Linked DNA regions of Homo sapiens. The protein of the gene in region 3 interacts with the protein of the main gene of each other region in a biochemical or structural test. Each region holds a gene or a part of one and is shown on either strand. Other genes may lie near its edges.

The links.
Region 1: the proteins of PLAT (region 3) and CLEC3B form a complex in vitro, tested with the Homo sapiens proteins (one study listed by BioGRID).
Region 2: the proteins of PLAT (region 3) and SERPINA5 form a complex in vitro, tested with the Homo sapiens proteins (one study listed by BioGRID).
Region 4: the proteins of PLAT (region 3) and SERPINI1 form a complex in vitro, tested with the Homo sapiens proteins (one study listed by BioGRID).

Annotation. Positions count from the first base shown.
Region 1 is NC_000003.12:45,021,281-45,029,308, reverse strand, and holds the start of CLEC3B (tetranectin), read right to left. Parts: upstream 3,007-8,028; 5' UTR 2,947-3,006; coding exon 2,838-2,946; intron 1-2,837. UniProt on the Homo sapiens protein: Tetranectin binds to plasminogen and to isolated kringle 4. May be involved in the packaging of molecules destined for exocytosis. Plays a role in retinal function.
Region 2 is NC_000014.9:94,584,426-94,591,425, forward strand, and holds part of SERPINA5 (plasma serine protease inhibitor preproprotein), read left to right. Parts: intron 1-2,920; 5' UTR 2,921-2,937; coding exon 2,938-3,556; intron 3,557-5,615; coding exon 5,616-5,886; intron 5,887-6,323; coding exon 6,324-6,471; intron 6,472-7,000. UniProt on the Homo sapiens protein: Heparin-dependent serine protease inhibitor acting in body fluids and secretions. Inactivates serine proteases by binding irreversibly to their serine activation site. Involved in the regulation of intravascular and extravascular proteolytic activities.
Region 3 is NC_000008.11:42,190,555-42,197,600, reverse strand, and holds part of PLAT (tissue-type plasminogen activator isoform 1 preproprotein), read left to right. Parts: intron 1-4,389; 5' UTR 4,390-4,415; coding exon 4,416-4,487; intron 4,488-6,186; coding exon 6,187-6,229; intron 6,230-7,046. UniProt on the Homo sapiens protein: Converts the abundant, but inactive, zymogen plasminogen to plasmin by hydrolyzing a single Arg-Val bond in plasminogen.
Region 4 is NC_000003.12:167,822,720-167,826,114, forward strand, and holds the end of SERPINI1 (neuroserpin precursor), read left to right. Parts: intron 1-266; coding exon 267-353; intron 354-1,753; coding exon 1,754-1,843; intron 1,844-2,527; coding exon 2,528-2,604; 3' UTR 2,605-2,850; downstream 2,851-3,395. UniProt on the Homo sapiens protein: Serine protease inhibitor that inhibits plasminogen activators and plasmin but not thrombin. May be involved in the formation or reorganization of synaptic connections as well as for synaptic plasticity in the adult nervous system.

The DNA.
Region 1 (8,028 bases), on a different chromosome or scaffold from region 3:
CCCTGGCTAGAGTGGGTCAGACCAGAAAAAGAGATGCCTTTCTATAATTTGTCAGTTTAGAGGAGGTACCTTTTGTAATTTGCACCAAGGTGCCCATATGTGCAAAGTTTCCTCCAGGGACTGTCCAAGGTACAGGAAGCTACTCTCATTAGCTCCACCTGAGGAAGCTGTGGGAGTAGGTGTCTCTACGGCCCTGGGCAGAGTCAGGAGGCCTTTGTGCTGGCCCACTCTCTGAGCCTCAGGTTCCTTCTGCGTGATGTTAGAATGGATGCCCTCCAGGTTCCCCCAGTTCCCTGTTCTAAAGGCCTGTGACTCCTATGAGGCCATCCTTCCCTCCGGAGCTTCCCTGCCAGGTGTGACCATGTGGCCCCAAGAACAGATGAGCTCCCAGAAGTACTCTAGGCTCCCCGCTTCTCACCCACCCTGAGGGCCAGGACAAGGACTTAGCATATGCTGGCATTCCCTTCCTTTGCCAGTCCTGCCACTTGCTCTCCCCCTCTTGGCCCTGGCACCAACTGGTCTCCTCTGGCATGACCGTCCCTTCTTTGGACTTTCTCCCGTACTTTTGGGCACCAGCCCTGCAACTAGATTGCCCCTGAGATTCTCATTCCTGGCTGCTCCTAGGAATCCCTGAAGACCTGTGGAAAAGGCAGATGCTAAACTCACCAAGATCCCTAAACCAGCATTTCCAGGGGTGGGGCCCAAGCACCTGAATTCTTAACTTTTATTTTATTTATTGATTTATTTTTGAGACGGAGTCTCACTTACTCTGTCACCCAGGCTGGAGTGCAGTGGTGCAATCTCGGCCCATTGCAACCTCCACCTCCCAGGTTCAAGCAATTCTCCTGCCTCAGCCTCCTGAGTAGCTGGGACTACACGTGTACACCATCACACTCAGCTAATTTTTGTATTTTTAGTAGAGACAGGGTTTCACCATGTTGGCCAGACTTGTCTTGAACTCCTGGCCTCAAGCGATCCTCCCACCTTGGCCTCCTAAAGTGCTGAGATTACAGGCTTGAGCCACCACGCCTGGCCAAGGCACCTGGATTCTAATGTATCTCCCAGATGATGTTGATGCCTGAGTGAGAACCACCATGGTTCATGTCTTAAGAGCAGAGACGGTGTTTCTCTGCTGTGTGTCCAGCATATAGACTGGTGCCTACGTGGAGAAAGAGCTCTATAAGTGCCTGCCATGTTGGTGGGCGGGAGACTGCCATGGGTTTCAGCGAGAGGCAGGGCCTGGGTGGCTGTTCTGTTGGCCTGTAGCCCTGGAACTCCAGGGGCCCCTTCTATGGAGACCACATAGGGCCAGGGTTCAAGTGTGACAGCTGGAGAGAACCAAGGCATCACGTGCTCTGACCCTTTTTTTTTTAACATGAGTTTAAAAAGATTTACATAATTATATTAATACTGAATCTTTGGTAAACTTGAGAAGCTGGCGATGGTTTTCCACATTCAAAAATTCTATGATTTGCCTTTGGAGCTGCATCTTTTACAAAGGCTCTCCCTTGGTGGCGATTTTGGCTAATGCTCATAGACGTAACTATGCACGGTATTGTCTTCTCTTTTTAAATGAACATTTTGTGGAAGGTAATATACACACATAATTTTTTAAAATCCAAACAGTTCAAAAAGCTGGTTTCTTTCCCAGTTGAGACTGCGCCCAGCCCCTGGTTTTTCTTCCCAGAGGTAATCACTGTTACTCACTCTTGTGGATCCTTCCAGAAAGAACTTATGCACATACAAGTAAAAATGTATTATTATATAAATCCCTTTTTCAAAGCAAATGTCAGCATCATACTCATTCTCTTTTGAATGTTTCTTTTTTCACTTTGTAAACTGAATCTTGAAGATGATTTTTTTATCAGCAGCCAGATTTGCCCCATTCTTTGTCACAGTGTTGTGAGGCCCCATGGCCCCGATGTCCCTTTATGCACTGCACTAGTTCCTGGCCAGTGGGCAACTGTCCATTTATGAAGAGCCCCGGGAGGGCCTAAGGGAGGCCCCCACAGCCCCTTCTTTCCTTTTCTGTGCCCTTGGTCCTAGCTGCTTGTTTCTCTGCCTCAGTCCCCACCCTCATCCCCTTGGACTCTCTTCTAGCCTCTGCTCCCTGGGGGGGTGACAGCCCCGTCCATTGCCATGACATTCCACTGATGTTGTCTCAACACAGCCTGGGGTGACCTCACTGCAGGCGGGGCTGCAAGGGCAAGTCTTGCTGTAGCCAAAGCAACCGAGGGACACCCCAATCCCCAGAGGCTACAAAGCAGAGCAAAGCTGCTTCTGGTGGACTAGTCTGAGTTACATTTATTTCCTGAAGGCTGTGATATGCTACAGAAATGAGAATTCATTTCTTCTTCTTTTTCTTTTCCCTGTGCATCAAGCAACAAGTGAGGTGCCTTTATATATTTTGTATCATAAAATCTTCATGAGAAGTCTTTGAACAAATACCACTGTCCCCATTTTACAGTTGAGAAAACAGGTTGGAAGACTCCAAAGCCCAGCCTGTGCAGCTCTCCCTGGTAAGGGCTGAGCGCTGCCAGACTCCCAGGCCAAAGGTTTGGTTTCTTTAAAATATTGGGGATGAGGGGAGGAGAGAAGAGCAAAGATCAGTTTGGATGATCTGGAAGGTTCTTCCCAACTCTAAGGGTCAGGGATTCTTATGATTCTGACAACCAACTCTGCTATGAGAGAACTCCCCCAAGCCCCAAAGCCCACTTTACTCAAGTTCCCTAGATGACTCAAAAGGAGGAAAATGAAGGAAAGGAGCATGAGGACACACTAAGGAGAGGGGGACCTGCTCCCTGGAAGATGGCACAGGGCTCTGTCCCCCTCCTTACCTTTCTTGGCATTTACAATCTTCTTGGGCTTCTGGGTTGGTGGCTCGGTGGTGACCTGGGTCAGGAGGGAGAAGAGGCAGAGGAGGAGGTAGGCCCCCCAGAGCTCCATGCTGCTGCGCGGGCGGGGGCTGCTGCTGCCTGCAGCGGGTCTGGGTCCGAACGCAGTGACAGCCACGGCCCAGGCTGCACGTCTTAAGGCAGCAGCCAAAGGACCTCTGTCCAGGAAACCCTCCCCAACTTGGCTGCAGGCGTGCCAAAAAAATAAAACAAACACACAAGCCTGCAGAAGGATGAAGTCCTGAGGGCCACAGAGCCTCTCTGCCAGGGAACACCCACGCAGCATCCTGGCCCTGCCTTCTAGAAAGAAGCCCTTATTTCCTAGGATTCTGAGAAACACACGGTGGTTGTCATCACATCTGCGGAGCAGCTACCTTGGGTAGGGGCTGAGGCTGGCTGTTCACTAACATTAACTCACAGAAGCTTCACACCCAAACCACGAGGGAAGCACTGTCCTTTCCCCATTTTACCATTGAGGAAATTGAGGCTCGGTGAGGTTAGGGAATTTGCCCAGGCTACCCAGCTGTCACGGGGTAGCAATGCCCCCTTATAGGGTGATCTGGGGCTGGCTGTCTGATTGGTTTAGAATATTTGTTATGATTATTTTGTGGCTCTGTCTCCATGTACTTGATGCATTTTTTGGTTAAAAAATCCAAGGGATTCCTTCCCTTCTTGTCTTCCCTTTCTCCTGAGTCCTGTCCTAAAGCCACAAAGTGGGGCATAGCAAAGGTGGCGGAGGGAGAAGCCATCGTGCCCCAGAGGTACCAGAGAGGATGTGGGGAGAATGTGCCCTCAAGGGGTGGACTGGTGTGGGGTGTGGGAGCCCAGCAGGGTGGAGGGAGCATCCTGGGGAAAGCAAAGGCCCTGCCTGGAGTGCTGGAGTCCAAGTGAGGCAAGGAGGGGATCCATGTGGGAGAGAGGCTGGTGGCAGAGACGGGAGATTGGTTACACACAGGGATACTGATCAAATAAATCTACTGAAGACAGTGGGAGTTAGGTTTCCTATTGTCAGAGAAGGAAGTTATGTATATGGAGAGAAAACTGGAATGAATCCTGTTGTGTGGGATTAAAATCGGAATGATCAGTGTACCCTTGTGGCCTTGAATACATAAAGATAAGTCCATATATATAGATGGAAATGTGTGTGTGTCTAGTCCCCACAGTCACTGGGGGGCCTGGAGCAGCCAGCCCCGCATAGCCTGGAGCACTCCTAGCACCTGAATACTGGCTTCTGAATATGACTTTCCACTAAAGGAACCAGAGCACCTTGCAGAAACGGCTGATTCTAGCACTGGGAAGTAGGAGTGGGGTGCAGAAAATGAGCCCGGAACTTGTTGTTTTGCCAGAAAACAAGGAAGTGCTTAATGAATAATGGGAACACGTCAGTAGGACACAGAGCCAGCTTGAAGGAGCCTTCAGTGGTCAGAATCAGGGACAATTTGAGCACCAACATAGTGACAGTAACAGATGGGAAACCACCAGTGCACACAGATATAAGTAAGTAAGGGAACGCATTGAAAGTCTGATGTTCTTCAATGGGATGTTTACATAGCCTCAAAGTATCTGCCCACAAAACACTTATCCATTCCAGAGAGAAAAAGAGCAACTTCATGGTGAAGAAGGCTGGCAGACATCACCTCATCTGTGACCAAAGTAAACATCAACAGGGCCAATAAAAAGCTTGCAGCACCTGGGGGGCTGCAGTGAGAATGTGGCATCACTCCATAGGACTCCGGCCAGAGAGACATCAGACAATCCCAAATGGAGGAGCATTCTGCAAAATGACTGCCAGTAATTTTCAAAGCTCCTGGCTGAGGAAGTGTTTCAGGCTGAAGGAGACTGAAGACACAGAACTAAATGCAATATGTGATTCTGGACTGGACCCTCCATTCTCAAGGATGCAGTTGGGACAACCAGAGAAATCTGATGGGGTCTGAGGAGCACACGGCAGTGATGTGTTGTCACATGCTGCATCATGACAGTTCAGTCAACAACAGGCCACATATGTGATATGCTTCCATAAGATTATAATGGGGCAGAAAAATTCCTAACACCTAGTGATGTCACAAAGGGTTGTAAAGTCATAGTGCAACTCATTATTCCCAAGTTTGTGGTGATGCTGGTGTAAACAAATTTACTGCCAGTCATATCGAAGTAGAGCATATAAGGTCATGTTAGCACATAATACTTGATTTTGTTAGTCCGTTTTCACACTACTCTAAAGAACTGCCCAAGACTGGGTAATTTAGAAAGGAAAGAGGTTTAATTGATTTACAGTTCCACACGGCTGGGGAGGCCTCAGGAAATTTACAATTGTGGCAGAAGGTGAAGGGGAAACAAACACCTTCTTCGCAAGGAGGCAGGAGGTACAATGAATGCAGGAGGAACTGCCAAACACTTATAAAACCATAAGATCTCATGAGAACTCACTATCACAAGGACAGCATGGGGGAAACCACCCCCATCGTTCAATGACCTCCACCTGGTCTCTCCCTTGACACATGGGCATTATGAGGATTACAATTCAAGATAAGAATTTGGGTGAGAACATAGTCAAACCATATCATTCTGCCCCACATGATTGTGCTTTGAAATGTGAGAGCATGAGATTTGGGAGGGGCCGGGGTGGAATGATATGGCTTGGCTGTGTCCCCACCCAAAATCTCACCTTGAATTGTAATCCTCATAATCCCCATGTGTCATGGGAAAGACCAGGTGGAGGTCATTGAACCATGGGGGCAAGTTTCTCCCATGCTGTTCTCGTGATAGTGAGTCTCATGAGATCTGATGGTTTTATAAGCATCTGGCATTTCCCCTGCTTGTACTCACTCTGTCCTGCTGCCATGTGAAGAAGGTGTCTGCTTCTCCTTTGCCTTCCACCATGATTATTAGTTTCCTGAGGCCTCCCCAGCCATGCAGAACTGTGAGTCAATTAAACCTCTTTCCTTTCTAAATTACCCATTCTTGGGCAGTTCTTTATAGCAGTGCGAGAATGAACTAATACGATGATAATAAATGACCGTGTCACTGGTTTATGTATTTACTGTGCTATACTTTTTATCATTATTTTAGAGTGTACTCTTTCTACTTTTTTTTTAAAAAAGTTAACTGTGAAACAGCCTAAGGTGGGTCCATCAGGAGGTTTTCCAGAAGAAGGCACTGTTATCATAGGATATGATAGCTCCATGTGTGTGACTGTCCCTGAAGACCTCCCACTGAGACAAGAGGTGGAGGTGGAAGACAGTGACACTGATAATCCTGACCCTGTGTAGGCATGGGCTAATGTGCGTTTGTGTCTTAGTTTTTAACAAAAAGTTTAAAAAGTAAAAAAGTAATAATAACTAGAAAAAGCCTATAGAATAAGGATATAGAGAAAATAATTTTGTACAACTGTTCAATGTGTTTGTGTTTTAAGCTAAATGTTATAAAAGTAAAAAAGTTAAATGAGTTCAAAAGTTTACAAAGTAAAAAAAGTTATGGTAAGCTCAGGTTAATTTATTATTAAAAAAGAAAACCATTTTTTAAAAAAATGTAATGCAGCTTATGTGTGCAGTGTTTTATAGAGTCCAGAGTAGTGTACAGTAATGTCCACGTTCACTCACCACTCACTGACTCACTCAGAGCAACTTCCAGTCCTGCAAGCTCCATTCATGGTAAGTGCCCTATACCAGTGTATCATTTTCTTTATCTTTTATATCAGGAGTCCCCAACCTCCAGGCTATGGACCAGTACTGGTCCACAGTACTGGTCCGTGGCCTGTTAGCAACTAGGCCCATCAGCAGGAGGTGAGTGGTGGGTAGGCGAGCATTACCACCTGAGCTCCGCCTCCTGTCAGGTCAGCAGCAGCATTACATTCTCATGGGAGCACAAGCCCTATTGTGAACTGTGCATGAGAAGGTCTAGGTTGCACACTCCTTATGAGAATCTAACGCCCAATGATCTGAGGTGGAACAGTTTCATCCTGAAACCATCACCCCAACCCCGCATCCGTGGGAAAATTGTCTTCCATGAAACCAGTCCCTGGTGCCAAAAAGGTTGGGGACTGCTGTTTTATACCATATTTTTACTCCACTTTTTCTATGTTGAGATACACAAATACTTACCATTATGTTACAACTGCCTACAGTATTCAGTGCAGTCACGTGCTGTACAGGTTTGTAGCCTAGGAGCAACATACCATACCTGAGAGCCTAGGTGTGTAGTAGGCTATGCCACCTAGGTTTGTGTAAGTACACTCTGTCATGGTAGCACAACGATGAACTCGCCTGACAATGCATTTCTCAGAACGTATTCCCATTGTTAAGCAACGCATGACGGTATCCCTGTTATGGTCCTACTTGATGGTGTGCTGTGATTATGTAGGAGAGTGTCTTTGTCTGTAGGAAACACACATACTGAAGTATTAGACAGCGATATGGTACTGTGTTGACAACTTACATAGTTCAGGGGGAGAATGTTCTTTGTACTGTCGTTGCAAATTTTCTGAGTTTGAGATTCTTCCAAAAGAAAATACAATACTATGTACTTCAGGCTTTTCCCTGCCTTCTAGGGACCCCACCTTCCCCTGTCTGACTTAGGGAGGGATCTCTTATGTAGTAGGCCAGGGAAGCAGGAGGCCAGCTGGGCTGGCCCAGTGCACAGTAGTCCTGCCAAGGGTGGGGGCCCTGAGCACGGAGCAGAGCATTTGCACGGCCCCTCAACGACACTGGGCTCCACCTCTCACATTCTCAGAGTGGGAAGGGTTTTATATTCACAGCTGGGCCCTCGGGAGACAATTTGGAGCCTGATGATTACATAACCTAAAAGGGGCCTTGTTCCTGGAACTCTGGGTGGGTAGCAGATGGTAAAAGAAAATTAATATTTTTGTTAACTGCTTTGCTTTCTTGGTTTTCTCACCTTGGCCCAACTCTATCTTGGCCCTTCAGTGGTAGGAAAATGAACGAAGTATGCTTTCTAAACATGAGGCAACCAGAGGCCCCATGTTTTCCAGGGCTGGCTGATGGTTGAAGCTATGGGGACTGTGGTGGCGTCTCACAGGGCACCGAATGCAGCCAGGGCAGGGCAGAAGGAAGGTGGCCCTCAGGCTGAGGAAGGGACACAGAGGGTGTGGCCAGCTGAGGGGAGGAAGGAATGA
Region 2 (7,000 bases), on a different chromosome or scaffold from region 3:
GGGTCTCAAACATGTAGCCCAGGAGAGCCTAAGTGAACCTGGGGCCCTCTCCAAACAGATCCTGGGGGAGACTCAGTGCACACCCGGAGAAGCAGCTCCTCCCCATCGGATCTCTAGTGCTTGGCAGGGGGCGGGGTCTTGAGGGGGTGTCCACAACACATGGCAGACTGCAGATGAAGAAACTGAGGCCCAGAGGGGGTGAGGCTTGCCCAGGGTGACCTAGTAGCTGAATAGATGGGAGAATGGAGGCCAGGGCCTCACTGAGACTCTCTGGTCAGCTGCCCCTGGGCTGTATCCAATAAGGAAACTCCCCTGCTTCTGAAGCTGTTCTCGAAATTATCAGCTCAGTGTGACCCTGTGGGGGGTTGAGCCACATTGTTTCTTTAGAAGCATCTCCATACATGGCTGGTTCCAACCCTTGGCAGGAGGGACCATATTGTGCTGTAAAATAGACTCATTTAGAGAAGCCGGAGATTAAAGCACCCACCTATGTCCTTCAAAGCTCTCCAGGCAAGTGCCATGGTGGGAACAGGTAGGGAGTGTCAGTGGGGGGAAGCCCAGACTCTGCTCACTCATTATCTGCAGATTAGGGCTATTGTTGGTGGCTACTAAGTCAGGGATTTCAAAATCAGGAAGATGCAGCCAGGAAAAGAGGAGGCAGGACTCTGCAGAGGAGGCAGGACTCTGCAGAGTCAGAGTGATAACCGAGTCTGAGTCCAAGCTTTGCCAGTGTTAGCAAGCGACTCCATCTCTCTGAACCTCGGATTACCCATCTGTAAAATAGAGCTAGCAGCAAGATGTACCTTTTTGGGTGGTGCAGGGCTGAAGGAGTTGGCACAGTGCCTGAAAGAGGGTGCGGGCAATGCGCCCAACTGCTGTGGCTGCTGGGTTTGGTGCCAGGTTCGATTCTGCAGGCAGAAACTTCTACATGAGGCTCCTTCTCGGAAGGAGCTCAGGACACAATTTGGAGGCTGGGCTGGCAAGGGTGACCTGCTGGAGCTATTCAACTTCACTTAAAGACAGGCCTGCAGTCCAAGCCTGCCCAATTCCTGAGACCATTCTCTCTCCACTGCTGAGCCCCACGGCCACTCTGCAAGGGATTTCCCACCCACCTGTTTGGGGCCCTTTGGAGTTTGGTTTTAATTGGGTCACGGGATGCTGTGACAGGCTGCCCCTGCCTGGTGGGGATCTGGGGTCACTGATGACATTGTGCCCATGGAGAGAGCCCAGCAGAAAGGGATTCCCTCCAAGGCGACACACAGGGCAAAGCTCACATCAGAAGCCAGGCAGGCCCTCTGCACCTGGTAATTAGCCAGCCTGGGTGCTGTCAGGCTCACACGTGTGTGTGTGTGTGTGTGTGTGTGTGTGTGTGTGTGTGTAAAGCATGTACCCTATGGTACAGTTGAGAATATGGAGGCCTCAGATGGGGCTTTTGCCAGAAACTGCCATGCCTACTGCTCACACTTCCATAGCACGTGCCCCCAAGCACCCCATGGTGTAGGTGCTGTTATTATCACTATCTTACAGTTATGGAGCAGTGGCTCAAGGTGTAACTGACTTGCCCAAAATCACACTACAAGGACACAGCAGGGCTGAGATTTGAACCCAGGCAGTGGCTTCAGAGCCTGAGCTGTTTCCTACTGCAGAGGGAGGAGGCAAGACTTCTACCCGTAGCCAGATGGGGAGGCATGGGCACAGGAACGGCTCTTGGGTGAAGTGGAGGGAGGAAGAGGAGGACTGAAGGCCAAGGCCACGTCAGGAGTGATGGGAGACCCCACAAAGGCCTCCCTGAGAAGAGCTAGAGACAAAGATGAGTGCCTCCTCATCTGGAAGATGAAAAGATGTCTTTGCCTGCATGGGCTGCTGTCACAAAGTCCCAGGGGCTAGGGGGCTTCAACAACAGAAATTTCTTTCTTTACAACTCTGGAAGCTGGAAGTCTGAGATTAAGGCACCAGCAGGATTTGTTCCTTCCAAGGCCCCTCTCCTTGGCTCACAGGTGGCTGCCTTCTCCCTGTCTTCACCTGGTCTTCCCTCTGTGCATGTCTCTATCCTGATCTCCTCTTTTTAATTTTTGTGTAAGGACGTAGTCATATTGGGTTGGGGCCCACTCTAGTGACCTCATTCTAACTCAGTCCCCTCTTTAAAAGCCCTATCTCCAGATATAGTCACATTCTGGGGTATTGAAGGTAAGGACTTCAGCATATGCATTTTGGGGGCACAATTCAGCCAGAACAGGAGGACGGTGGGGATGTCCACATGAAGAGGTTCAGGCAGAATTCCTTTAGGAGGGGAAGATGTCTCTCTGTGGGACAAGGGTGGCATGGAGCAGCCCCTGGGGGAAGGAGAAGGGGACAGTTTGCATACTGGTATTCTGCCTACCCCAGGGTGGACACTCACTCAGCGTTTGCTGAATGAACAGGGCAAGGCCAGCAGTGCTGATGGTCCCAGGCATGTAGCTGGTCTGAGTTCATAGAAGGACCACAGCGCCCTGCCATGTGCCAAACCAGGACACCAGAGTGAAGGCCAGAAGCTCACATGGAAGCAGCTTAGTTCCCTGGTAACCTCGAGATGCTGATGAGACAGAGCAGAGCAGAGGGAACCCTCTCCCTCCATATCCCATCCTCCAAAATGTGTCCCTTGATGTGGATGGGTAGACAGGATTCCTGCCCTGGCAGCCAGACCCCTGCCTTGGGTCTGCACCTCCTCTCCCTCCTTCCTCTCCCCGTCATCCCTAAATCTTGTCCTCGAGCCACTGCCACCCTGTGTAAACCCTCATGCCCAGTCTTGCGGGTGCCATCCCTTCTCTTTGAAGCTGAATGGACCAAACATACCCATTGAGTGTTGGGTGGGGACATCTCTGGAAAGTCAGCACCTGGACCAGCTCCACCCCTCTCTGAGGACACCTTCTTTCCCTTTCAGAACAAAGAACAGCCACCATGCAGCTCTTCCTCCTCTTGTGCCTGGTGCTTCTCAGCCCTCAGGGGGCCTCCCTTCACCGCCACCACCCCCGGGAGATGAAGAAGAGAGTCGAGGACCTCCATGTAGGTGCCACGGTGGCCCCCAGCAGCAGAAGGGACTTTACCTTTGACCTCTACAGGGCCTTGGCTTCCGCTGCCCCCAGCCAGAGCATCTTCTTCTCCCCTGTGAGCATCTCCATGAGCCTGGCCATGCTCTCCCTGGGGGCTGGGTCCAGCACAAAGATGCAGATCCTGGAGGGCCTGGGCCTCAACCTCCAGAAAAGCTCAGAGAAGGAGCTGCACAGAGGCTTTCAGCAGCTCCTTCAGGAACTCAACCAGCCCAGAGATGGCTTCCAGCTGAGCCTCGGCAATGCCCTTTTCACCGACCTGGTGGTAGACCTGCAGGACACCTTCGTAAGTGCCATGAAGACGCTGTACCTGGCAGACACTTTCCCTACCAACTTTAGGGACTCTGCAGGGGCCATGAAGCAGATCAATGATTATGTGGCAAAGCAAACGAAGGGCAAGATTGTGGACTTGCTTAAGAACCTCGATAGCAATGCGGTCGTGATCATGGTGAATTACATCTTCTTTAAAGGTAAGGCCCTTGGGCCCAAACCTGCACTTTCTTTGGCTTTTCTGCTGCTTTTATCTAAAGAATACCCAATTCCCTCACATACATAAAAGACGGGGAGTACGTTAAGTTCTTTTGGGTGCCTGTTGAGAAAAATTAAGTAAACAAGCAGCCAGAGAAGGTAAGATGAATGCCTTCTTGCTGTGGATGGGATTAGTGAGGCTGAGATGCTGTTTCCTCCACGGAGGAAGAGCTGGTTGCTGTCTTCGGGCCCCTGGGGACATCTGAAGCCCCAGCTTTCTACAGGCTCTGAAGTATGAACCCATTGTGGCCACCATGGCAAAGACACCAACACCTTAGCCACTCAGGGCAGGACACAGACCCCAGAAGGGCTTAAAGGGCATTTCCCAGTCCCCCGTATCCCTCAGATCTTGGCCCCTCTGCCCTCATAGAGGCCAAGACTCCCTCAGACAAATGCTTGTTCCTCTGAAATGCCTCCTCCTGACTCCTCAGCAAGAGCTGACCTCTGCTTATCTCCCCGACACTCCTTGTAAGCATTCCTGCTCGCCTCTGCAGCTCCTGCCAGTTGCTGACCCTGGGGAAAGCAAGAGTGGATAGAGAGGAGAAGAGAGGAGAGGAGAGGGTGGGAAGGGTTGCGAAGGAAGGTAAATTGTTAACACCTCCCCTTCCTATGGTCACAGATCATGAGTATCTTTGGCCATTTGGGTGGCTATAACAAAATACCATAAACTGGGTGGCTTAGCAACAACAAACATATATTTCTCATAGTTCTGGAGGCTGAGAAGTCCAGGATCAAGGCACTGGCAGATGCAGTGCCCATTCCTTGGTTCATAGAGAGTGCCTTCTTAGTATATCCTTGCTGGAAGGAGGAAGGCAGCTCTCTGTGGTCTCTTTTGTAAGGACACCGATCCTGTTCATGACAGCTCCACCCCCATGACCTAATCAACTCCCAAAGGCCCCCTGTCCTAATACCACCACCTTGGGGGTTAGGTTTCAACATATGAACAATGTGGGGACACAAACATTGAGACCACAGCAGTGAGTGTCGAACTTGGACTCTGAGATTTCCTATCCCCTGGTGCAGGGCAGTCCCCATTACACCAGATTGCTGAGGGCAGCTGGGAAATAAGCTAAGGACGGTATTGACTGGGGTCTTCCTTCGATAACGATTAAGAAGTTGGAAACAGGCCAGGCATGGTGGCTCACGCCTATAATCCCAACATTTTAGGAGGCCGAGATGGGCAGATCACCTGAGGTCAGGAGTTCGAGATCAGCCTGGCCAACATAGTGAAACCCCGTCTCTACTAAAAAATACAGAAATTAGCCAGGCATGGTGGTGGGCGCCTGTAATTCCAGCTACTTGGGAGGCTGAGGCAGGAGAATCACTTGAACCTGGGAGGTGGGGGCTGTAGTGAGCCAAAATTGCGCCACTGCACTCCAGCATGGGTCACAGAGCGAGACTCCATCTCAAAAAGAAGAAAAAAAGAAAAAAAAGAAAAAAAGAAATAAAATAAAATAAAAAGAAGTTGGAAACAATCACTTGTAGCGTTTTGTTCAGAAGTTCCCATAGGAAGGTCAGAGAAGGGTCATTGAAGACTTCCCAATGGGAAAAACCATTCATTTCCAGGATCCATACTAACTTCTTTCTAAAATTTAAATCAAAATATTGGAATGAAAGTGCAAACAGAGAAGTTCACCCAGATATCAGGTAGCATTCACAGCCAGCCACATTTTTCACCCTCTTCACTTGGAGATTTGGTCTTGAGTAAAACGTTAGAGAATCAGAGAACATCAGGGGTCCAGGGCCTCTGAAGATGTGAAAACCAACCTCCTTGTTTTGCAAATGTGGAAGGAAAAGTCCCACGAAAAGTCCAAGAATGTGCCCAATGTTATAAAGAGACTTGCCTTCATATTCAAGAGGTTCAACAGTCACTGCTCTGGGGCTGCCATAAAGATGGTCTCCGCTGGCTATCTTTACTGTCTTCACTCCTTTTATTTGCAGCTGAGAATTTCTAATTCTGACACAAAATTCTTTTTCATTTTTCCCTTTTTTCATCTTTAGCTAAGTGGGAGACAAGCTTCAACCACAAAGGCACCCAAGAGCAAGACTTCTACGTGACCTCGGAGACTGTGGTGCGGGTACCCATGATGAGCCGCGAGGATCAGTATCACTACCTCCTGGACCGGAACCTCTCCTGCAGGGTGGTGGGGGTCCCCTACCAAGGCAATGCCACGGCTTTGTTCATTCTCCCCAGTGAGGGAAAGATGCAGCAGGTGGAGAATGGACTGAGTGAGAAAACGCTGAGGAAGTGGCTTAAGATGTTCAAAAAGAGGTACTTTCAGACTACCCCAGGGCCAGCCTAAACCCACACAGCCCCAGGGAGACACACACGCCCTACCAGGGCCACACAGCACTGGTGGGAAGGACTCACCCAGCCAAGGAGCTGCCTCCAGGCCCAGAGGCATCCTGTGACATCCAAGTCCTGGGGGCCTAGCCCAGTTGGAGGGACAAGAGCTGGAAACTGGGTTCCTTAGGGTGGTGCCAGAGTGGGCAGAGACCTCTGGGCAGCCCACGTCCAAGTCCAGAGCAAGGGGAGGCTCATCCTAGAAAAGAGGCCAGAGGAGCCATAACCACCATTGTTCCTTGGGTTAAGGAGTCCTTTTTTAAAACCATCAAAACTAAGAATCCAGTGCATTATGAATCCAAGGGGTGAGGCTCAGTGTGCCAATGCCCCAGAACAGTCTAAGAAAGCTCCTTTTCCCTTTCCAGGCAGCTCGAGCTTTACCTTCCCAAATTCTCCATTGAGGGCTCCTATCAGCTGGAGAAAGTCCTCCCCAGTCTGGGGATCAGTAACGTCTTCACCTCCCATGCTGATCTGTCCGGCATCAGCAACCACTCAAATATCCAGGTGTCTGAGGTGGGTTCAGAAGCTCCTATGCATCTGCTTCCCAAGGTCTATTCTGTTCTATTCTTTCTATTCTACTCTACCCCATTTCATTCCATTCCATTCCACTCAACTCCACTCCACTCCACTCCACTCCAGTTCACTCTATTCAATTCCACTCCACTCCACTCCAGTTCACTTTATTCAATTCCACTCCACTCCACTCCAGTTCACTCTATTCAGTTCCACTCCACTCCACTCCACTCCAGTTCACTCTATTCCATTCCACTCCATTCCACTCCTCCACTCCTCTCATCCACTCCACTCTACTCCTCCACTCCACATCTCCACTCCACTCCTCCACTCCACTCCTCCACTCCACTCATCCACTCCACTCCTCCACTCCACTCCTCCACTCCACTCCTCCACTCCACTCCACTCATCCACTCCACTCTTCCATTCCACTCCATTCCACTCCTCCACTCCACTCTTCCACTCCACTCCATTCCACTCCTCCACTCCACTCCACTCTATTCTATTCTATTCCATTCCATTCTACTCT
Region 3 (7,046 bases):
TGCCCATCGACCATCATTTCCCCATGTGGCCACCAAAGAAATGAACACCACCTTTCTGGTTGGCATGATCATCAATTTCTCAGCCAAAACGGCATGCATCCTTGGCTCTGGGAAACAGTACATCTCCCAGGAAAGTGAGCTTACAGCACGGTACCCCACTTCCTGGTTACCAGACTATTGTTCCCGTTTTCCCCAAGAACAGTCATCATTCACAGGTTGTTTGGCAGGGCCCAGGAACAGAGTCACTCTGGTTGCTACAGCCAACAGACCAAACACGGCTTCCAGGCAGGAAGGTCAGAGCTGCTCTGCAGGATGCACATGCAGGTTGGAAGCAGACAGGGCTGGCCGAGCACAGATATGCTGGCTGTGTCCTACACACAGGTGCCTACACACACATCCTTCAGATCCGGGCTGCACTCTATCAGCCAACCCACGGACTCTGTTTTTTCTAATTTGCACAGATTCTTTGTCAACCTGCCATGCCCTGAGACTGCTGAACTTCATCCAACAGAGAGGGTACCTTTTGCAAATCTGCAAAAATCAACTTTGTGTGCTAGGGTGGCCTGACAGGGCTAGGCCTTGGGGTCTTGGGGACCAGCATTCCACCTCTCCTCTCATACAGTGATTCTGGATTCCAGCCCAGCAAAAGTCAGCCAACCTTGGGGCCTTCCTTTCTTTCATCCTTTCTTTTTTTTCCTTTTCTATCCTTCTGTGCCTCCCTTCCTACCCCCTTCCTTCCTTCTTCTCATTTGCCTTTTTTTTTTTCAGTTCTTTGATGATCCTGAGAAGCTACTAAATATAGCAAAAGGGAGATAACACAGAACAAAATTAGAAGTCTATTTATAAAAATGAGCCTCTTCCATCCCTTCCGCCAATGTCATCTCTCACCCGGGTCTCGCCAGAGCACTCATGGACCTCCCTTTGGTGAGGCCCAAAGTCCATCCCAGCCACGCCCTGCGGTCCCGAGTCTGAGTCCATTGTTCTGGCTTTCACTCTGCTCTGCATCCCGTCACTGGCCCCAGACCTCGACGCCCACCTCTTCAGCGAAGGCGAAACAAGGACTCATTTTTCCTCCCTCTCTTCGCTCTTTCTTGTTTTCAGACTGCACTGTTTTTCTGCTGGCCGGATGACTCATTTCTTTGTCATCTCTTACCCCACTTGGCCTTTTCAGCTGCTCGAATCGCCTCTGTGTGATGCGGACAGAGCTATCGCCCTGCTGGGGTGAGATTCACTTGCATTGAATCAGCTCAAGGCGCAGGAAGGTCCAGGGAAGCCAAGGAAGAGAAGAGACAAGTCTCCAACTCTCTCAGGAGCAAAGACAAAAATATGCTCCTGCTCTCTTATCTCTTATTCAGACCGTTCAGTTGCAAAAGGGTTGAACATGATGCAGCGGGTGGTATGTGTGGACCAGCCCTAGGTCGTGCTTCTCCTCCATCTGGTCCCCCCACCCCTAGTTATCCAGAAAGGGGGATGTTCCCAGGCAATGCCAACATGTCCATACTGCACTCTTCACATTGCAGTTTCCCGGCATCTGGGATTGCATTCCTTTTGGAAGGACTTTGAGTTCTTGAAATAAAGAAGTAACTTGGTGGGCATCTGGAAAAAACACCCAAACTGTATCCCAGGCTGGGGTGCAGGAGCCTATCGAGAGGGCTGGGTGGTGTGGACAGCGTGATGAAGAAGGTCAAGTTCCTTGTACTCACTCGTTTGCTGTTTCATTCACAATTCCTGTGAGGTGGGAGCTCTCACCATCCTTGGGTCTTGCTTAAGAGTAAGGAGTGGGGCAACCTAGAGATACATGAACATCAAGGAGAAATGGGGAGGGAGTTTCACATGAGCTATTTTTACAAGATTAAGTAATGGGATAAAATTTAAAAGGGGAATTTAAGAGGAATTTTGGGCAGTTTTGAGAAACAGGAAATTTGAGGAAAGCTGAGAAAGAGAAGATCTGGAGTAAGTCTCTGTGATGAGAAGATTCCACCCCGCACTCCTGTTCTGGGTGGCCTTGGCTCCTGACTCCCTTTCTTCTGAAACTGCCTGGAGCCAGGGAGTAGCACAGCTGCTTCCTCCCGGGGAGAAAGGGACACCCAAAGAGCGCACTCCAGGGAGACCTTGGGCACTGCGGGCTCAAAGGCTGGAGATGGCACTTCTGTTCCCTCCTGATGGGACAGGTGCAGGGAGGCTGAGAGGATGCCACGCTGGCGAGCCTCCCTCTGAGCTGTGTTTTCTCATTGGAATTGCTGTACCCGGAGCCTCCTGCAGGTTTCCCTCGCCCTCTCCCTAAGCTCCTCTGCCTGACACAGGAGCCCGGGGAGAATCTGTCAGGCATGAAATGTAGCGAGGCAAGGAGGGTGATCAGCACCTCCCACGGGGGAGTTCGTTTCGAAGTAACAATCAAAGATCCAGAGCCGGACCCAGGCAGGGAGGCAAGGCCTGGAAGCCCCTGTGCCTCCAGGCCCCTAGGACGCTCGGGGGAGGGGGAGGGGGAGGGTGGGACCTGAAGTTGTTGTGACCGAAGGGAAATGAGTCAGGGAAAGAAATGCCATGCTTTAATTTTTGTGGATGAAGGAGGGAACAGGCCGCCAGACCACAAAATAACACCCGGCCGACTAACCTACTTTTAGCTGCCGAGGGCAGGATCACAGAGGAGAGGCAGATGGAAACTGGGGCTCTGGGGTCCAGGAAGATCTGAGTCTTCCGACCAAACATCATTTGCCTCCCCTCCTTCCTGCAAATATGCACATTGCCGGATCTGCTGCAGTCTATGAAAAAGGAGACAGATGTTCTGGCAGAGCGGTGGGGGGGGTGGGCGTGGAGGTTGGGTTGGGGGGCCTCTGCTTTGTGGGGAGAACCTCAGGCAGGGGAGTAGGCTCCATCCTGCGTGGAGGAACCTGAGCAGTCTAAGGCAGGCTGGCTCTATGATGTGCTGGCAATAAAATCCCAATGGCTTCCGCTGCAGAAGTCCAAGAGGACATGACTGCGGCTCCATCTAGTCAAGCCCAGGGCAGGAATTCCCTTCCAGGAAACCAAGCCAGAGCGCTGTGGTCTCTGGGCTGCCAAGATGTCTCAGAAATGGTCTAGCCCTTCAGCCCACAGAAATCTCTGGGCAAAATTATCTCCCAGCATTGACAGACGAATGGATAAACAAAATGTGTTCTATCCCACAGTGGAGTATTATTCAGCTTTAAAAAGGAAGGAAAAATGCTGGGCGCGGTGGCTCACGCCTGATCCCAGCACTTTGGGAGGCTGAGGAAGGAGGATCATTTGTGCCCAGGAGTTCGAGACTAGCCTGGACAACATAGAGAAACCTTGTCTCTACACACACACACACACACACACACACACACACACACACACACTCTCTCTCTCTCTCTCTCTCTCTCTCAGCCAGGCACAGTGGCACATGCCTGAAGTCCCAGCTCTGGGAAGCTGAGGCAGGAGGATCTCTTGAGCCTGGTGGGTCAAGGCTGCAGTGAACCATGTTCATGCCACTGCACTCCAGTCTGGATGACAGAGCGAGACCTAGTCTCAAAAAAAAAAAAAAAAAAAAGAAAGAAGAAAGAAGAAAGGAAAAAGAAAAAAAGGCAGCGGGGGCGCGGTGGCTCACGCCTGTAATCCCACCACTTTGGGAGGCCAAGGCGAGCGGATCACGAGGTCAGGAGATCGAGACCATCCTGGCTAACACGGTGAAACCCCGTCTCTACTAAAAATACAAAAATTAGCCGGGCGTGGTGGCAGGCGCCTGTAGTCCCAGCTACTCAGGAGGCTGAGACATGAGAATGGCATGAACCCGGGAGGCGGAGCTTGTAGTGAGCCGAGATCACACCACTGCACTCCAGCCTGGGCGACAGAGCGAGACTCCATCTTAAAAGAAAAAAAAAAAAAGGACATGCTACAGCATGGATGCACCTTGAAGACATTTGCAAAGTGAAACAAACCAGTCGCAAAAGAAGAAACACTGTCTCATTCCACTTCTAGGATGTATGTAGAGCAGTCAGGTTCATACAGACAGAAAGTAGCAGCGTGGCTGCTGGGGAAAAGGGGAATGGGGAGTTATTCTTTAATGGCTACAGAGTTTCAGTTAGGGGTGATGGAGAAGTTCTGGAGATGGGCGGTGGTGACGGCCGGCCGCACAGCAATATGACGTGCTTAATGCCACTGAACTGTGCACTGAACATCGTTAAGGTGGTAAATTTTGTGTTATATATATTTTGCAACAATAAAAAATATGTAGTTTCTAGAATCCTCTTCTAGATGCATGTCTGGCGTTTCTGCCGCGGGGCTGGCACTGGAGGAAGCCAGACAGGACAACATTGCGGCTTATCCTCCTCTGTTGCCATCATGGACCTCTCGCACCCCGTGATCAAGCTGTTTTTTCTCTCCTTCCAGAATTTAAGGGACGCTGTGAAGCAATCATGGATGCAATGAAGAGAGGGCTCTGCTGTGTGCTGCTGCTGTGTGGAGCAGTCTTCGTTTCGCCCAGCCAGGTTGGTGTGCAGGATCCCTGTGTCCCGCCCCTCAAGGCTGTGATGCTTCCGGAGGCTCCAGGGGTCTGTGTCCATCTGGGCCACGGAGGTTGGAATGCTGTCAGGGAGCAGAGAGGCACAGGGACGAGGGGCTGGCATTGCTGTGGAGCACACAGCACACACTCCCTTCTGTACAGCAAACTCTGTATTTGGGGGCCCAGTGTGTAGCTGGGCCCTAGGCACTTATTTTGACCTGAGTAAGCGGAATTAACATGCCACTCCCTGCCTGTGACTGCCTTTTTTTGCAGCTGTTTTTAAAGAATGTATTCAAATTAATCCATAAAGTACAGTTGTCCCTCATATCTATGGGGTATTTGTTCCAGGACCCCCAAGGATACCAAAATCCAGGGATACTCAAGTTCCTCATATAGAATGGTGTAGAGTTTGCATATCCTATGCACACCCTCCTGTATACTTTAAATCATCTCTAAATTACTTATAATACCTAGTACAATGTTAATGCTATGTAAATGGTTGTTATAAGGTATTTTTTAATTTGTGTTATTTTTATTGTTGTATTATTTATTTATATATTTTTTGGAAACAGGGTCTCACTCTGTCACCCAGGCTGGAGTGCAATGGCACAATCATAGCTCACTGCAGCACCAAACTCCTAGGCTTAAGCCTTGGCCTCCCAAAACTCTGGGGTTACAGGTGTGAGCCACAAGCCCAGCTTATATTATTATTTTTTATTTTTCTGTTTTGGTTGAATCCACAGATATGGAACCTGCAGATATACAAAGTGGACTGTATTTATAAAAGACAATGCAGGACAGGGCACAGTGACTCACACCTGTAATCTCAGCACTTTGGGAGGCCGAGGTGGGAGGATCGCTTGAGCCCAGGAGTTGGAGACCAGTCTGGGCAATATAGTGAGATGCTGTCTCTACAAAAAATTTAAAAATTAGCCGGGTGTACTAGTATGCACCTGTGGTCCCAGCTACTCAGGAGGCTGAGGCGGGAGGATCGCTTAAGTTCAGGAGGTTGGGACTTCAGTGAGATATGATTACGCCAATGCACTCCAGCCTGGGTGACAAACTGAGATCCTGTCTCAAAAAAAAAAAAAAAAAAAGAAAAAGGCAATGCAAGTGCCATGAGCCACAGCAGAGGCAAACTGCCCTCATGGTGCCTACTCTCTAGCTGAGATGGAAGCGCTACACACACTCTCTGAAAATGCCTAGCAATAAAGGGCCTCACGGAAGTCCAAACTAACCACACCTCTCCCACAGGACCCTACAGCGGGGAGAGCCAGGTGACTGCGTGGAGTAGACAGCCAGCTGCAACTCCATTGCCCAATATGGTGGCCACTTACCTTGTGCAACTGTTTAAATTTAAAATAATTAAAGTTAAAAATTGTTTCTCAGTCCCACTGGCCACATTCAAAGCACTCGGTGGCCCTGTGTGGCTTCTGTCGTGGACAGCACAGACAGAAAACATTTCCACCAAGCAGAAAGCTCTTCTGGACAGAGCCAGTCAGGAAGGAGAGGAAGAATTGGACTAGAAGGCAGGAGATGGACTTTCACTTGGGCCAGTTACCCGAGGGGGTCTCTGAGCAGAGGTATCTGGCCGGCAGGTTCACATGGGCTTCTGGGTTGGCCGCCTTTACTCTTAGTACACCTGGCATGTGCTGATCCTTCCTCCACCTCTGGTTTCTTCGCAGGAAATCCATGCCCGATTCAGAAGAGGAGCCAGATCTTACCAAGGTCGGGTGAAGCTGAGGGGTGCATGGGGTCATCAGGGAGGGAGGCAGGGCGGGGTGCAGGGTGCATCACCCACCCACCACCTGCCTTCTTCCACCCACCACCTGCCTACGGTGTGACAGTGCCATTGCAGCATGATTCTACAGAGATGCCTGTGTCGGCACCATTCTCCCATCAGCTGCGGCCACTGGGCGGGTTCTGATTCTGAGGGGAGCAGAAACAGGTGTTCCCCCCCAAGGAGCCAGGCTGTCAGGGATCACAACCTAGCGGGGGCTGGGGGGGGCGGCCACTGGCCCAAGGTCCTGGTTATACAGATCAAAAGGCAGAGCCCAGGAGAGAGCAAGTGGCTTGCCCAGGGTCACACAGCCGCCAGCAGCACGGCCAGGGCAGTCACAGCCGAGGCCAGGCCCATGCTCTGGGTCTCATCCTAGGCTGTGATCCCACCACAGTGCACCGGCAGCTTTGGTAACAACATCCCTGTGTATCCATTTCCCTCTGTTGATCCAACCGGGATGTCCCAACTGGGATGTCCCACCCAGGCAACCCCTCGACATGGTGGGGTCTCTAAGTCCACATCTAGAGTTGACTCTAGAAGGCTGAGGAATGCGAGGCCCAGCTTCAGGTCCAAAACTACCAACTTAGGCCCTCGATTTCCCTCCTTCACGACCCAGTTCCTTCGAGTCTGGAAGACTCTGCAATACCCTTTGTGAAGGTGTTAAAAAGGGTGACTCACTCCCCAGAGCGAGTCACACCTGGACTCTTAATGCCTTCGTTGTTGGATGGCATCCTGCTTCCTACCAGGTTATCCTGGCCTCAGTGA
Region 4 (3,395 bases), on a different chromosome or scaffold from region 3:
TTCCACTTTTTCTGAAAATATAAGACATACATATGGGAAAACCACCAATAAAAACAGAAAAGAAAATTAGCAAAAGAATATAAAATGAGGGCAAATTAAAAACCACATCTTCAATGGTTATCTCATTAATGAAATCTTTTAACATTATCTCCTAGGTTTTCTTCAGTATCCCAGTCTCTTAGATCTCTAAAATCCATTTAACAAAAGGGCAAAATATTTTCCTATCTCTGAATGAAAAAAAAAAATTTCTGATTCTCTTTTTGCAGATAATAAGGAGATTTTTCTTTCCAAAGCAATTCACAAGTCCTTCCTAGAGGTTAATGAAGAAGGCTCAGAAGCTGCTGCTGTCTCAGGTACTGTTTGCTAGAATCTTCTCCCCTCTTCTAGATTTGTATTTTTAGAGCAATCTTGAGTGGGGAGTGGGGTCATTTTCAAAATGAAGCCAAAAAAGTCACTCTGCTCTAACTTAGAAGTCAAGCAAATGCTGAACCAGCCGGAATTTTCTAAATAGAATGTGAAGTGTGAACTCACTCCAGTGCCCCTTTACAGATAACTCTCATCTTCATTTTCTCTCTAATGAGAGACAGGAGGACATTGGCAGTTCTGCGAAAATAGATTTTTTCTGCTGTGCTGCCTGTTTAAATATTTTAAATATTTTCCTGCTACCCATTTAAACATTTTTCTTCCTACCAAATTATTTGCTGAAGTTGATTCTTAATTTTGTCAGCAAAAAGTTCTTATTTTTTATTTTCATGGTTACATGGCAAATGTATATATTTATGGAGAATATGGGATATTTTTGATACAGGTATGTAATGCATAATAATGACATCAGGGTAAATGGGGTATTCATCACCTGAAGCATTTATCATTTCTTTTTATTACAAACATTTCAATCATACTTTTCCAGTTATTTTTAAATGTACAACAAATTGTTGACTTATAATCACTTTGATGTGCTATCAAATACTAGATCTTCATTCTATTTAACTGTATTTTCGTACCCACTAACTATCCCAACATACCCCACCTCTATCACTTTCATGATAGGATAGTATTTTCCGAAGTAAATAAGAGCATAGTAGCCTCAGGCATCAAGACAGCTTGAAATCTTACATGTAATCTGGACTTTCTTTTGACAATTAACTATACTGCAGCAAGTATATATCATCTTATAATGAGGATCTCAGGGGAATTTAGTAGCCCAGTCATAGGATACCTCGTTGTATCTCTCACTGTTATATTTTCCCTTTAATCACTGCCATCTTGACCACTTACTAGAAACCTGGTGACTTCCTATGTAAAAATACCCGCTTCAGACAAAAGAAATAATGATTTGAAAATATAGAGAAACTCTCTTCAGTTTTTGTTTGGGGATTTTTTTCTTTATTCTCCCCCTTCCTTTTACTCAAAAGTCATTTTAGTAAAGACACACATATTTATGTGAGGCTGAGAATAAACATTTCATAACAAGCAGAATAAATTGTCCTATTATTTTTAATGGAGTAGAAGGAAGAAATTGTTTGTTTGTTTTGTTTGTGGTGTGTGTTTGTTTTGTTTCGTTTTGCTTTTTAAAAAGATCAAGTAGAAATGTTAACACCTTTATAATTTTTCTCCAGTTAAGTCTTTAAAATCTTGTTTCCTGTAAATTGTTGTCTTTGCATTAGGTGGATAGGCATAGATGGTTTTGAGGAATTACTCATTAGTCTCTGCACATCCACAGACATATAATTACTTTTTATCTGCACTGTAGGAATGATTGCAATTAGTAGGATGGCTGTGCTGTATCCTCAAGTTATTGTCGACCATCCATTTTTCTTTCTTATCAGAAACAGGAGAACTGGTAAGTTTATTATGAAAACAAAATTTTATTTAATAGGTCACAAAGAACCTCTTTTTTAAATGGAGATTTTTTTCCTCAGTACTCATCATATAATTTCTTTTCACAATTTTATTTATTTATTCTCTTTCCAGAGATTGACCAACTGAATTATCAGATAGTTTATAATGTTGAAATGATTTTTTTTAATGAAAATAAGGCTGGTGAGGTGGCTCAGACTTTAATCTCAGCACTTCAGGAGTTCCAGGCAGGGAGGATCACTTGAGGCCAGGAATTCAAGACCAGCCTGGGTAACATAGTGAGACCCCATTTCTACATAAATAAAATTTTTAAAAAATTAGCCAGGCATGGTGGCACATGCCTGTTATCCTAGCTACTAGAGGTGTTGGGGGTGGAAGGAATGCTTGAGCTCAGGAGTTCACAGTTACAGTAAGCTCTGATAGAGCCACTGCACTCCAGCCTGGGCATCAGAGCAAGAGCCTTTCTCTAGAAGGAAAGAAGAAAGGAAAGGAAAGGGAAAGGGAAAAGGAAGGAAGAGAGAGAGGAAGGAAGGAAGGACAGGAGGAAGGAAGGAAGGAAGGAAGGAAGGAGAAAATAACATATTTTCATTAATTGTAAGCAAGAAGGAAGATAAATATTTTATTATTTTGTTCACCCCCTCTTTTGTTTACTTCTGAACCAATACAGGTACAATTCTATTCATGGGACGAGTCATGCATCCTGAAACAATGAACACAAGTGGACATGATTTCGAAGAACTTTAAGTTACTTTATTTGAATAACAAGGAAAACAGTAACTAAGCACATTATGTTTGCAACTGGTATATATTTAGGATTTGTGTTTTACAGTATATCTTAAGATAATATTTAAAATAGTTCCAGATAAAAACAATATATGTAAATTATAAGTAACTTGTCAAGGAATGTTATCAGTATTAAGCTAATGGTCCTGTTATGTCATTGTGTTTGTGTGCTGTTGTTTAAAATAAAAGTACCTATTGAACATGTGACTAGATCTATTTTTTTATTTTAGAAGTTGTAGTATAAAGATATCTCTAGGTGAACTTTGGAAACAATGTTTCTCTACCTCTTAAATCTCTTATGCAGGATCAAAACATCATAGTAAAATAGCATTATAAACTTATGCATAACAAGCAATAACAAGTGAGGTGAAGACAGGTACTCCACAAAAATTCTCACTGTAATTTCTTGGAAATAAGTGTATAGCGTAGGCAAAAGAATACAAACTGGACATCTTTCGTATTGCTTCATGACAAGACCTGTTAGAAAAAAACAACAGAGCTATGCAAATCTCAGATACCTATAGCTCATTTTTCCAAATCATTGAAAATTCATTTGGCTTCATATGCCTAAAGGAGTTTACAAGTCTGGTGTATCACTGTGTTTTGTTGCTGTAAGTAAAATCCAAGCTACAATTTCCCAAAAGCCCCAAAATAAACCACACGAGCAAACTAAAAATAAAAATATGCACTTTGGCACGTCACGGGAGAGTTAATTAGAAAAACCATGCTAGCACGCATACTGGAAAATGGCA